Linked DNA regions of Homo sapiens. The protein of the gene in region 2 purifies or fractionates together with the protein of the main gene of each other region. This does not show direct contact. Each region holds a gene or a part of one and is shown on either strand. Other genes may lie near its edges.

Region 1 (4,432 bases), on a different chromosome or scaffold from region 2:
ACAGGCGTGAGTCACCCTGCCCGGCCTCATGCACTCTTTTTTGCCTTCTGCTCTACTGCCTTGTTTGACATTGGACCCTTTCAAGAGAGTAGAGACTAGAGAGTAGAGGTTAGACCTTAACTCATGCCCTGGCAGCCAGTGGGCATGAATACATGTTTGCTGTTCACTTAAATGAAAGCACAAATATATATTCCTTTTCCTTTTTGGAGGAGAGCAGCCCCCTCTGGACAACCTGATTTATATGTGCTCTGCAGCACTTTGAATCTCTGCTCAGCTGTCCCTCACTGCTGCCAGTGCCAGTCCCCCCCTTGACAGGCAGAGACCACTTAATGCCCTGGCACCTCAGATGGTGAAACCACCGGAGCATGAGGACTCAGAGGAATGTGGCTCTGCAGTTGTGTGTCACGGAGGCACTAAAAGGTGAAGTCTGCAGAACAGTGGTTGGTGTGCTGGGGGCCGGTGCGTGCTAGCCCTGGGTGTGCAGCAGTACCACATATAGGTTCCTGCCCTGGAGGAGCCAGGTCGGGATGACAAGGGTACCGTAGCTATGGTAACAGGGTGGTCTAAGGAGGTGTTCTGAAGGTGTGCAAGGCCGGAGCTGGACCTTGACATGCTGACCAGACTCAGGTCAGTCCCCGCTCTGTCACTCAGTCAGCGTACGTCTTGGCCCCAGCATGTGCTGGGTAGTGTTCAGCAGTGGTTGAAGAGCCACAGTCTCTCCTGCCACGACCAGGTTAGCTGCCTCCCCAGGACCTTCCGTGGCACAGCCCCTGTCTCCCTGCGTGGTAATTACCCTGGTTTGGGGTCTGCTTTGCTTTCCCCTCTATCTGTGAGCCTCTCAAAGACAGGAACCAGATCGGTCTTGGTCTCTGCTTTGTCCCCAGTGCCTAGCACTGGGCTGCCTGGCACGTTAGTGTCTGGTCCTGCTTTGTGGAGAGCTGAACCTGGTGAGGTCAGGGTTCCACACAGCCACAGCATTCTCCCCCACCTCCATGAGAGAACCCTGGGGCTTTTGGGCTTTGATTTCCCCCCTCCCCCGCTCCTTCCCATCCCGAAGATTCTGCCAAAGTCTCTGGCTGGCCAAGTCCTGAAAGCTGGGGAGGGTAGTGGGAGGAGGAAGGTGAGACGCGATGGGCGGCTTAGCAGAGGGTGAGAAAGCCTCCTGCTGCCTGGCCGCAGGCACCGCGGGAATGGTTCTGGCAGGAGCCGCCTGCTGGGCTGAGATCACCATGGAGACCTGGCTTAGAGAGGGTCACTGGCAGTGGCTAAGGGCCTGGGGTGGGGGTGGGGGTGCAGGGATTTGTGCAGAGGCTCCCAGCCTGCCCCGGGGCCCTTGGAGGGAGCAGGGGAGGCTGGCGTTGGACAATATCAGTTTGCCAGTGGTTTGGAGCAGCCCATCCTAAAGTCCCCTTCCCTTGTCACCCCCAACACCCCAACAGAGGTTCTTTAGCTTGGCAACTGTTCTTCAACCGCAATAGAGCAGTCCTCTGGATAGATGCCCCCAGCGCTCTGGCTCAAGCAGTTACCCCAGATAAAATCATTCTGCTCCCTAATAGACACCCCTCTTGTCTCTGCAGCCTGTTTACCGCCTGACTGTGGAGAGCTTGCATTCATCCCAGCAGCAGCCCTTGCCCCAAGAGCTGCTTTTCTACCTATCACCCCATTGCAGCACAGCTGTCACCCTCCCAGGCACACCGCTCGCCCCTACGGCTAGTATTCCATCCTCCTGCAACTGCAGGCAACCTGACAGCTTAACAAAGATGCAGCTCTTCTCCTCTCCTATGCCTCTGCCTGCCACCTGGTCTGGTCCACCAGGATGAGGTGCTGCCCTGCCTCTGCAGGAGCCCACCTGGTTCCCCTGGACCTTGGGGGAGTCCTGGCAAGTCCAGCCTCAGGACAAAAGTCGTCCCCGGGGCTGACTGCCCAGCAGACAGCAGCCGAGGCTGAGCAGAATTTAAATGTGGCTCTGGTAGAAAGGGAAGCCAAGAAAGTACAAGGGAGGAGAGGCTTTCTGCCGCCGCCTGATTCCTGCTGGTGTGGGGGAGGACGGATGGGCTCCTAAGGAACCTGAGGAGGCCCTTTCAGCATCCTCACCTCGCCCTTTAATTCGGATGGAGATGGTCGCACACTGAGGGTGGGAGATGTGTGTCTCGGGGCTCTGAGAGGAGGACAGAAGTCTGAAAGGACCAGGCTAATAATGACTGGAGCTCTTAGGAAGTCCCGAGCCCATCCCTGTCCTTCAGGGGACCTTCTCACTCACCCTAGCAGAGCTGTGAATCCAGGGGGTCTAGCCAAGCTGGGGGTCTGGGTAGGGAAGTCAGATCCCCAGGGCCCCGCAAGCATAATGAGAACTGTCTGGGAAAAAGGGGTACTTCCAATCTCGAGTGTCTGGCGATGGGAGGAACTGGGAACTTGGGAGTGTCTGAGCTTCAGGAAGGCAGGGTTAAGCCAAACACAGATGGCATTGTGTTGGGCAGTTTCTCTGTTCTTTCACTGAGAAAGACTTCCTCCTCACCTCACCTCTCTAAGGAACAGAATGGCATTGGTAAGAAGAGGATTGGATTTAGAAGAAATAAAAGCAGTTGTTCACACCTGTGCTGTGTGCTGAGGCCCTGCCCTCCCCATGATGTCATTCCTCAGAACAGCCTAAGTTGGAGGAATTACTAAACTCATCATGACATGAGGAGGCAGGTTTGGAGAGCCTAACTGCCCCAGAAAAATAATAATGAATAATAATCAGTATAATTTATTATGCACTTAAGGACCAGGCTTCATCTGTCCTATACCGCTGAATCCTCCCAGCAAACCAATGGGGTAGTTCAGTTATCTTCTTTTTACAGATGGGCAAACTGAGGCTCACAGAAGTTCAACAACATGCCCAAGGTCATAGCACTACTAAAGGGTGGCACTGGTATTTGAACTCAGCTGTGTCTGATTCCAGAGCCCAAGCTCTTAACAAATTCCACTGCCTGGAACCCCACCTCCTCACCCAGCACCTGCTTCACCCTGTGTTTTGGGGCTTGGACACGCATATTTTACAGATGGGGAAACTGGGCTCAGAGAAGGCAGGTCTGAGTTTTTGTGAGAAAGAACAGTGGTTAGCTTTCCCCCTCACCCTGCTGAATCCTGGGAGGAGCTGGGTGGGGGTCTCCCTCTTCACTTCCCTGATCTCAGAGCACAGTCGATGCGTGCCGCTCACTCCTGCCTCTTCTCTTGTGTTTCTTTGCAGCTTTCAGAAAACCAACGCCAAGATCCCTCCCAGCGTCCACATCGTCCTCTGGCAGGAGCTCCTGCCCCTCTGCCTCCCACCCTGCCCCCTACACCCCCTGCAGACCCATCTCCCTCCACCCCCTCCCACCCATCTCCTCCACGCAGAAGCCGAAGGTGAGCCCTTTCTGCACAAAACCAGCAATTGTAAATACTTTTTAAAAATGTACAAAACTTAAAAACAAAACACAGTTTTAGAAAAAGACAAAAAAAAAAAAGAGAGAGAGAGAGCGAGAGAGCGAGCGTGTGCAAGAGGTTGCGAGCGGGGCCCCGAGGTGTCCAGAGCCCCTGCAAGTATGCACTGAGAAATTTATCTACAGGTCGTTTGACAAAAATGAACAATATCCTATTTATTGTATATACTGTTTTATTATAAATCGTGGATTGTATATTGCATTCTGTAAACCTGCTGTGGTCCCGTGGTGTGCAAATTCGCATGGTGGGGGGGAGGGAGAAGAACCTCTTGCGGGAGCTTTTTTTTTCTTTCTTATTTTTCACTCTTTTGGGTTTTCTCTTCTGTTGTTGTTGTTGTTGTTTTCTGTTGGCAGGACACACCCAAAGATCCAAGTTTGTATTAAAAAGAAATGAAAAAAAGCAAAAAAAAAACAAAAAAAAAACAAAAAAAAAAAACCAACCTTGTGTCTTGTGAAAGGGGGAGTGAGGGTGGAGGGAATGGAAGGGACACCGCTGGGTTTTGTCACCAGCTACTGGTTCTCCAGAGGAGTTGAAATACCTACACGTGTTCCTGGCCACTGAGTTTTCCCTTCTGCCTGAGATCTGGGTTCCCCCTCATTTCACTCCAGGCCCTGCGTCTCCCCTGCCTCTGAGCTCCCCACTCTGCTGCCGAGGACATCCTGGCCCTTGATCATGCGTTCAGTCCCAGGTCCAGGGATTCTGCCTCTTGGACCTCCATTTTGTCCTAGGTCCTGGGTCTCCTCTGACTCTCCCTATATTCTATCCCAAGTCCAAGGTCTCCCCAAATGCTGGGTTTCCTCTCCCTGAGGAACCTCCATCATGGGGCTCCTGCTTCTGGACCCCCTTATTCCATCCAAGGTCCCAGGTCTCTGCCTCGAGTCCCTTTGTGTGTCCTGTGTATTCATGGCCTTTGGGCCTCACAGTTCTACTCTGGTTCAGGGACATCTCTCTTGGCGACACTCATTCCGTC
Region 2 (7,032 bases):
TATATTGTAAGGGCATTTGATAAGTTAAAGGATGCACGTTGTTACTCCTAGCAATCACTTAAAGAACAATAACAAAGAAGTAGTATAACTAGGAAGCCAATAGATGATATAAAATGGAACACTAAAAAATATTTGATTAACCGAAGAGAAAGCACAACAGGAACAACAGAGGAACATAGCAAGAGAAGGAGCAAGTAGGAAACAAATAGCAAGGTGGTAGATATAAACCTAGCCAAAGCAATAATGACATTAAATGTAATTGGTCTAAAAACATCAAGTAAAAGGCACAGAGATCATATTTTCCTGCCTGTAGTCTTCCACGCTTCGTTGTATTCTTAACTTAAACATTTATTACTTTCTTTAGGAAGCCTTTTCTCACCCAAGATCTAGTCCTGTGGGCACAAATAGCATTCTTTATTTCTCCTATCATTATATTATTCCGTTGTGTTGTAAGCATTTATCTCTCTCCTGTATATTTTAAGTTCTTTTCTGTCTGTAAGATCTTTGAAGAAGGGAATATCTCTAGTTTTTTACAACTGTGCTTTTAGCAATTAACAGTATCTGATGCATCTAAGTTCTCAATAAATACTTGTTAAATGAATGAATATATGAGTAAACAGCTTAATAAATCAGTAAGAAATATTTTAAAAAGACTATATGCTTATATGTGGGAATGTTTATAATTGTGCAGAAAAGGAGGGAAAGAGTTTTAAAAGCTATCAGAAAATTAAAAAAATCAAAAAGCATTCTTTTTTAATCTAATGAGTAATTTTTCATTTATCTTCCATAGACCTGAATTGGTAGTTAAGAAGTTACGATATTATGCAAGATTTATAGTAGTTTGTCTTCTTCTCAACAAAATGGATGTTGTAAAGGATCTGGTAAAGGTAAATACACTTTAAATAGTTCAAATTCTAATCTCTAGTTGTATATGGATGATCTTATTTTTAAAAAACAGATTTTAGGTTAAAATAATTTTGATATATCAATAATTACAATATTCAAAGTATAGTAACTTCTGACAAGGGTAATGATAAAAAAATTTTCCAACTCTTTTCATGTTACAAATACACTAATCTGAGATAATTATCTTGATTCCTTGCTTTTGTCCTTTCTGCATGTTTTACATTTCAAAGCCCATCAGTGGATGGCTGGGAATGCAAACAAACAAAAATTCTTAGTTTAAGAGAAAATAATTGAAATGTTATGTGAAGAAAAAGTACATAATGCTTTACAAAGGCCTTGCAAATGATTTTCATTTTCCCACCACTTTAGAGTGTCTGCATAAAGTCTCTCCTTCATTAACTGAGGTGATTAAGAGTTAACTGTCTTCAGACCCACTTAATACCTGTAATCATTGCATATTAAATTCTGATTGCATTCTGTATTCAATAGTTTCAATGGCATACTTAATTTTGTATCAAGTATAACATGCCAGTTGGTTTTTTGGGTTTTGTGGGGTTTTTTTTTTTTCTTTTTTTTTTTTTGAGACAAGGTCTCGCTCTGTCATCCAGCTGGAGTACAGTGGCATGATCTTGTCTCACTGCAACCTCTGCCTCCTGGGCTCAAGCAGTCCTCCCACCTTAGCCTCCTGAGTAGCTGGAATCATAGGCTCAAGCCACCACTCCTAGCTAATTTTTGTGTTTTTTGTAGAGACAGGGTTTCACCATGTTGCCCAGGCTGGTCTGAAACTCATGAGTTCAAGCAATCCGCCAGCCTCTGCCTCCCGAAGTGCTGGGATTACAGGCATGAGCCACCGTGCCCAGCTCAACATGCCAGTTTTGACAAGGCCACCAGAAGTAGCTCTCTGTTCTCCTTTTCTACCTTCCTTTATACCCAGTTACCATTAAAAATATTTCCAAAAACCATATAATACAAATCCAAATAAAGTCAGGAAGTATTTTTAGAAATATATAATTTTTTGTAGTGGTAGGGTCTCACTATGTTGCCTAGGCTGCTCTCGAAATCTTGGCCTCAAATGATCCTCCCACCTCGACCTCCCAAAGGGCTGGGATTACAGGTATGAGATACTGCATCCAGCCTCATTTTTTTTTATTGTTAAAATTTTTGAATTTCTCTTTTCTGATTCTTTCATTAATGAATTCATTGCTCATGTAGTACTGATAGGAAGTAGATCTCTGTAAAGACTTTATTTGATGGGTGTTATTCTGAAGTTTGTACTTTTGAAGAAAATTTATTAGTTTTCATCTTTGTTTTTTGTTATAATCAGGACTGTGTATTGCTAATAATCAAATTTTGTAAGTATGTCGGTTTCTGTCAGGAATATGGTTCTATATGGCTGTGTGTTTTTATGGGTTTTTTAATAACCTTTTTTGTGATGTTTTTAAAATCAGGAATTGTCAGATGAAATTGAAGATTATACTCACCGATTTAATACTGAAGATCAAGTGGAATGGAACTTGGTGCTTCAAGAAGTAGCAGCTTTCATTGAGGTCAGTTTTTGATAAGAAAAATCATAATTATTGATAAATAAATGACCGTGTAGTTTATGTTTTTATTGTGTGTATATGTCAAGAAGAAGGAATAGCTTACTCTATTGATATTTAGTCTTGGCCATTCGTTAAGTTCTTATTGCTTTTTTCTTTAGGCGGATCCTGTAATGGTATTAAATGATGATAATACCATTGTTATCACATCGAATCGCCTTGCTGAAACAGGAGCCCCATTGCTGGAACAGGGCATGATTGTGGGACAGTTGTCTCTGGCTGACGCACTCATTATTGGTAATTGTAATAATCAGGTAAAGAATTGTGAAGGAATTATGCTTAAAATTCACTGTGAAAAATAGTGCTATTGATGATCACAGAATTATTTTCTTATAAATATCCTAACATCCTCTTGTGAGGAAATTGCTGATTAAATTATGCTGTGTGCATATATGGAATATATTACAGATATTTAAATAGCTTAGAAAGAATTTTTAATAACATAGAAAGATACTCGTGATACAGTAAATGAAAATAAACTTGCCATGGAGCCAGGAAGCAGAATTATTTCATATATGTTAGAATGTCTATATGTATGCACACAGGAAAAAGACGAGGAAGAAATGTTACAACTATCTAAGTTTTATCTCCAAATAACCAAATTATAGGGGATTTTTATTTTATTTTTTACAACATTCTAAAGTTTCCAAAATTTCTGACCTGGCACAGTGGCTCACACCTGGAATCTCAGCACTTTGGGAAGCCCAGGTGGTTAGATCACTTGAGGTCAGGAGTTCAAGACCAGCCTGGCCAACATGACGAAGCCCCATCTCTACTACAGAATGCAAAAATTAGCCAGCCATGGTGGCATGCTCCTGTAATCCCAGCTACTCAGGAGGCTGAGGCAAGAGAATCACTTGAACCTGGGAGGCGGAGGTTGGAGTGAGCCAAGATCACACCACTGTACTCCAGCCTGGGTGACAGAGCGAGACTCTGTCTCAAAAATTAATAATAATAATAAAGTTTCCAAAATGTATATGTCCTACTTTCCAATCAAGCAAAAAGGGGCGAGGAGTTGGTGTTTTTTGTGTTTTGTTTTTTTTTGAGACAGAGTCTTGCTTTGTCACTCAGGTGGGAGTGCAGTGTCATGATTTTGGCTCACTGCAACCTCCATCTCCCAGGTTCAAGCGATTCTCCTGCCTCTCAGCCTCCCAAGTAGCTGGGATTACAGGCACATACCACCACACCCGGCTAATTTTTGTATATTTAGTAGAGATGGCATCATCATGTTGGCCAGGCTGGTCTTGAACTCCTGACCTCAAGTGATCCTCCTGCCTCAGCCTCCCAAAGTGTTGGGATTACAGGTGTGAGCCACCGCACTTGGCCAGGAGTTGTTTTTGGGTAAATTTGTCAAAAGTGAATTTCAAATGTTTTTTCATGACAGAGTAGCACCATGATGATGAGATTTAATGTACTAGAAATGAAATTTACTGGAAATTACACCAGTGAATACATTTTTCTAGATGTGTTTTTTATACAAGTTTAATTTTGGATCCTATCCTAGCATCTATCAATCACTTTTGTTATTGTTAAATTTTTCTGGTATTTCTCCATTTTTGGCTTTTATGACCATTATTTTGCAAATGTCTACAACGTTTTTGAAATTATAGTATGAATATACTAAATGGAAATATTTTGAAACATTTATGGTTTGTATAGTTATACTATCTTAAGGCTCGGTATTTTTCTCACTTTTTTTTAATTCAAAGAAAATTTTTCTAATCAGAAAAATATAAATTAAAACCAAATGAGATATCACCGAACTAGATGACTAAAAACAAAAGAGACCAAGAAACTGATAATAGCATATCCTGGCAACTAGTACAAGAACTGAATATTTCATACTATGTAGAAATAGAAATTGATAGATTTACTTTAGAAAAGTGTCAGGCATTATCTAGTACAGCTCCATATGTGCACACTCTATGACCAAGCATTTCCAGTATTTTCTTATTGATCTGTAAGAGTTCTGAATATATTCTACATGAAAGTCCTTTGTCAGATTTATGTGTTGAACTATCTTCTCCTACTCTTGTCTTGCCTTTTACTCTCTTCTGATATCTTCTGTCTCTTTTTCTCCTTTTCTTTAAACATCTGTTAAAATATTTATTAGTATCTACGCTATGCCAGACGCCCCTGTTCCAGATACTGAGATTCCAGTGAACAGAAGTCCTTAATTTTAATGTAGTCTAATTTATAATTTTTTTCCTTTCTGGTATTAGCTTTTTTGTGTCCTATTTTGAGAAATCATTGCTTACCTTACCTTTCATATTTAGATCTATGATATCTTTGGGATTTATTTTAGTGTGAAGTATGGGTCAGATTTTCTTTCTGGATTTCCAGTAGACCTAGCACCATTTACTAAAAAGACCATCTTTTCCCTGCCACACTGCAGTGTCACTTTTATCATAAATCTGATGTTCAAATATATTTGAGTCTCATTCTGTTCCTTTGGTCTGTTTGTCTATTATGCTGATACTTCTGACTTCATTATTATGGCATTTTAATAGGCCTCGATATATTGTAGTAAATGAAATACTGATTTTTTCTAATTTTTTCTCTTACATTGATTCTGATTCTTATTTCCTTCTTCCTATTTTGAATTTAATTTGCTTAGATAACTGACATTTATTTATTTATTTATTTATTTATTTATTTATTTATTGAGACAGAGTCTTGCTCTGTCTCCTAGGCTGGAGTGCAGTGGTGCAATCTCAGCTCACTGCAACTTCTGCCTCCCAGGTTCAAGCGATTCTCCTGCCTCAGCCTTCCTAGTAGATGGGACTACAGGTGTGTGCCACCACGCCCGGTTAATTTTTTGTATTTTTTTTTTGTATTTATTATTTTATTTTATTTTATTTTATTTTATTTTATTATACTTTAAGTTTTAGGGTACATGTGCACAATGTTCAGGTTAGTTACATATGTATACATGTGCCATGCTGGTGTGCTGCACCCATTAACTCGTCTTTTAGCATTCGGTATATCTCCTAAAGCTATCCCTCCCCCCTCCCCCCGCCCCACAACAGTCCCCAAAGTGTGATGTTCCCCTTCCTGTGTCCATGTGTTCTCATTGTTCAGTTCCCACCTATGAGTGAGAAGATGCGGTGTTTGGTTTTTTGTTCTTGCGATAGTTTACTGAGAATGATGATTTCCAATTTCATCCATGTCCCTACAAAGGACATGAACTCATCCTTTTTTATGGCCGCATAGTATTCCATGGTGTATATGTGCCACATTTTCTTAATCCAGTCTATCATTGTTGGATATTTGGGTTGATTCCAAGTCTTTGCTATTGTGAATAGTGCTGCAGTAGACATACGTGTGCATGTGTCTTTATAGCAGCATGATTTATAGTCCATTGGGTATATACCCAGTAATGGGATGGCTGGGTCAAATGGTATTTCTAGTTCTAGATCCCTGAGGAATCGCCACACTGACTTCCACAATGGTTGAACTAGTTTACAGTCCCACCAATAGTGTAAAAGTGTTCCTATTTCTCCACATCCTCTCCAGCACCTGTTTCCTGACTTTTTAATGATTGCCATTCTAACTGGTGTGAGATGGTATCTCATTGTGGTTTTGATTTGCATTTCTCTGATGGCTAGTGATGGTGAGCATTTTTTCATGTGTTTTTTGGCTGCATAAATGTCTTCTTTTGAGAAGTGTCTGTTCATGTCCTTCACCCGCTTTTTGATGGGGTTGTTTGTTTTTTTCTTGTAAATTTGTTTGAGTTCATTGTAGATTCTGGATATTAGCCCTTTGTCAGATGAGTAGGTTGCGAACATTTTCTCCCATCTTGTAGGTTGCCTGTTCATTCTGATGGTAGTTTCTTTTGCTGTGCAGAAGCTCTTTAGTTTAATTAGATCCCATTTGTCAATTTTGTCTTTTGTTCCCATTGCTTTTGGTGTTTTAGACATGAAGTCCTTGCCCATGCCTACGTACTGAATGGTAATGCCTAGGTTTTCTTCTAGGGTTTTTATGGTTTTAGATCTAACATTTAAGTCTTTAATCCATCTTGAATTAATTTTTGTATAAGGTGTAAGGAAGGGATCCAGTTTCAGCTTTCTACATATGGCTAGCCAGTTTTCCCAGCACCATTTATTAAATAGGGAATCCTTTCCCCATTGCTTGTTTGTCTCAGGTTTGTCAAAGATCAGATAGTTGTAGATACGTGGCGTTATTTCTGAGGGCTCTGTTCTGTTCCATTGATCTATGTCTCTGTTTTGGTACCAGTACCATGCTGTTTTGGTTACTGTAGCCTTGTAGTATAGTTTGAAGTCAGGTAGCGTGATGCCTCCAGCTTTGTTGTTTTGGCTTAGGATTGACTTGGCGATGCGGGCTCTTTTTTGGTTCCATATGAACTTTAAAATAGTTTTTTCCAATTCTGTGAAGAAAGTCATTGGTAGCTTGATGGGGATGGCATTGAATCTATAAATTACCTTGGGCAGTATGGCCATTTTCATGTTATTGATTCTTCCTACCCATGAGCATGGAATGTTCTTTCATTTGTTTGTATCCTCTT

The links. Proteins that work in one complex are often made in the same cells at the same time.
Region 1: the proteins of SCAI (region 2) and AHDC1 purify together in Homo sapiens (affinity purification with mass spectrometry; 2 studies listed by BioGRID). This does not show direct contact.

What each region holds. Positions count from the first base shown.
Region 1 is NC_000001.11:27,533,714-27,538,145, reverse strand, and holds the end of AHDC1 (transcription factor Gibbin), read left to right. Parts: intron 1-3,229; 3' UTR 3,230-3,901; downstream 3,902-4,432. UniProt on the Homo sapiens protein: Transcription factor required for the proper patterning of the epidermis, which plays a key role in early epithelial morphogenesis. Directly binds promoter and enhancer regions and acts by maintaining local enhancer-promoter chromatin architecture.
Region 2 is NC_000009.12:125,014,528-125,021,559, reverse strand, and holds part of SCAI (protein SCAI), read left to right. Parts: intron 1-790; coding exon 791-887; intron 888-2,354; coding exon 2,355-2,453; intron 2,454-2,608; coding exon 2,609-2,761; intron 2,762-7,032. UniProt on the Homo sapiens protein: Tumor suppressor which functions to suppress MRTFA-induced SRF transcriptional activity. May function in the RHOA-DIAPH1 signal transduction pathway and regulate cell migration through transcriptional regulation of ITGB1.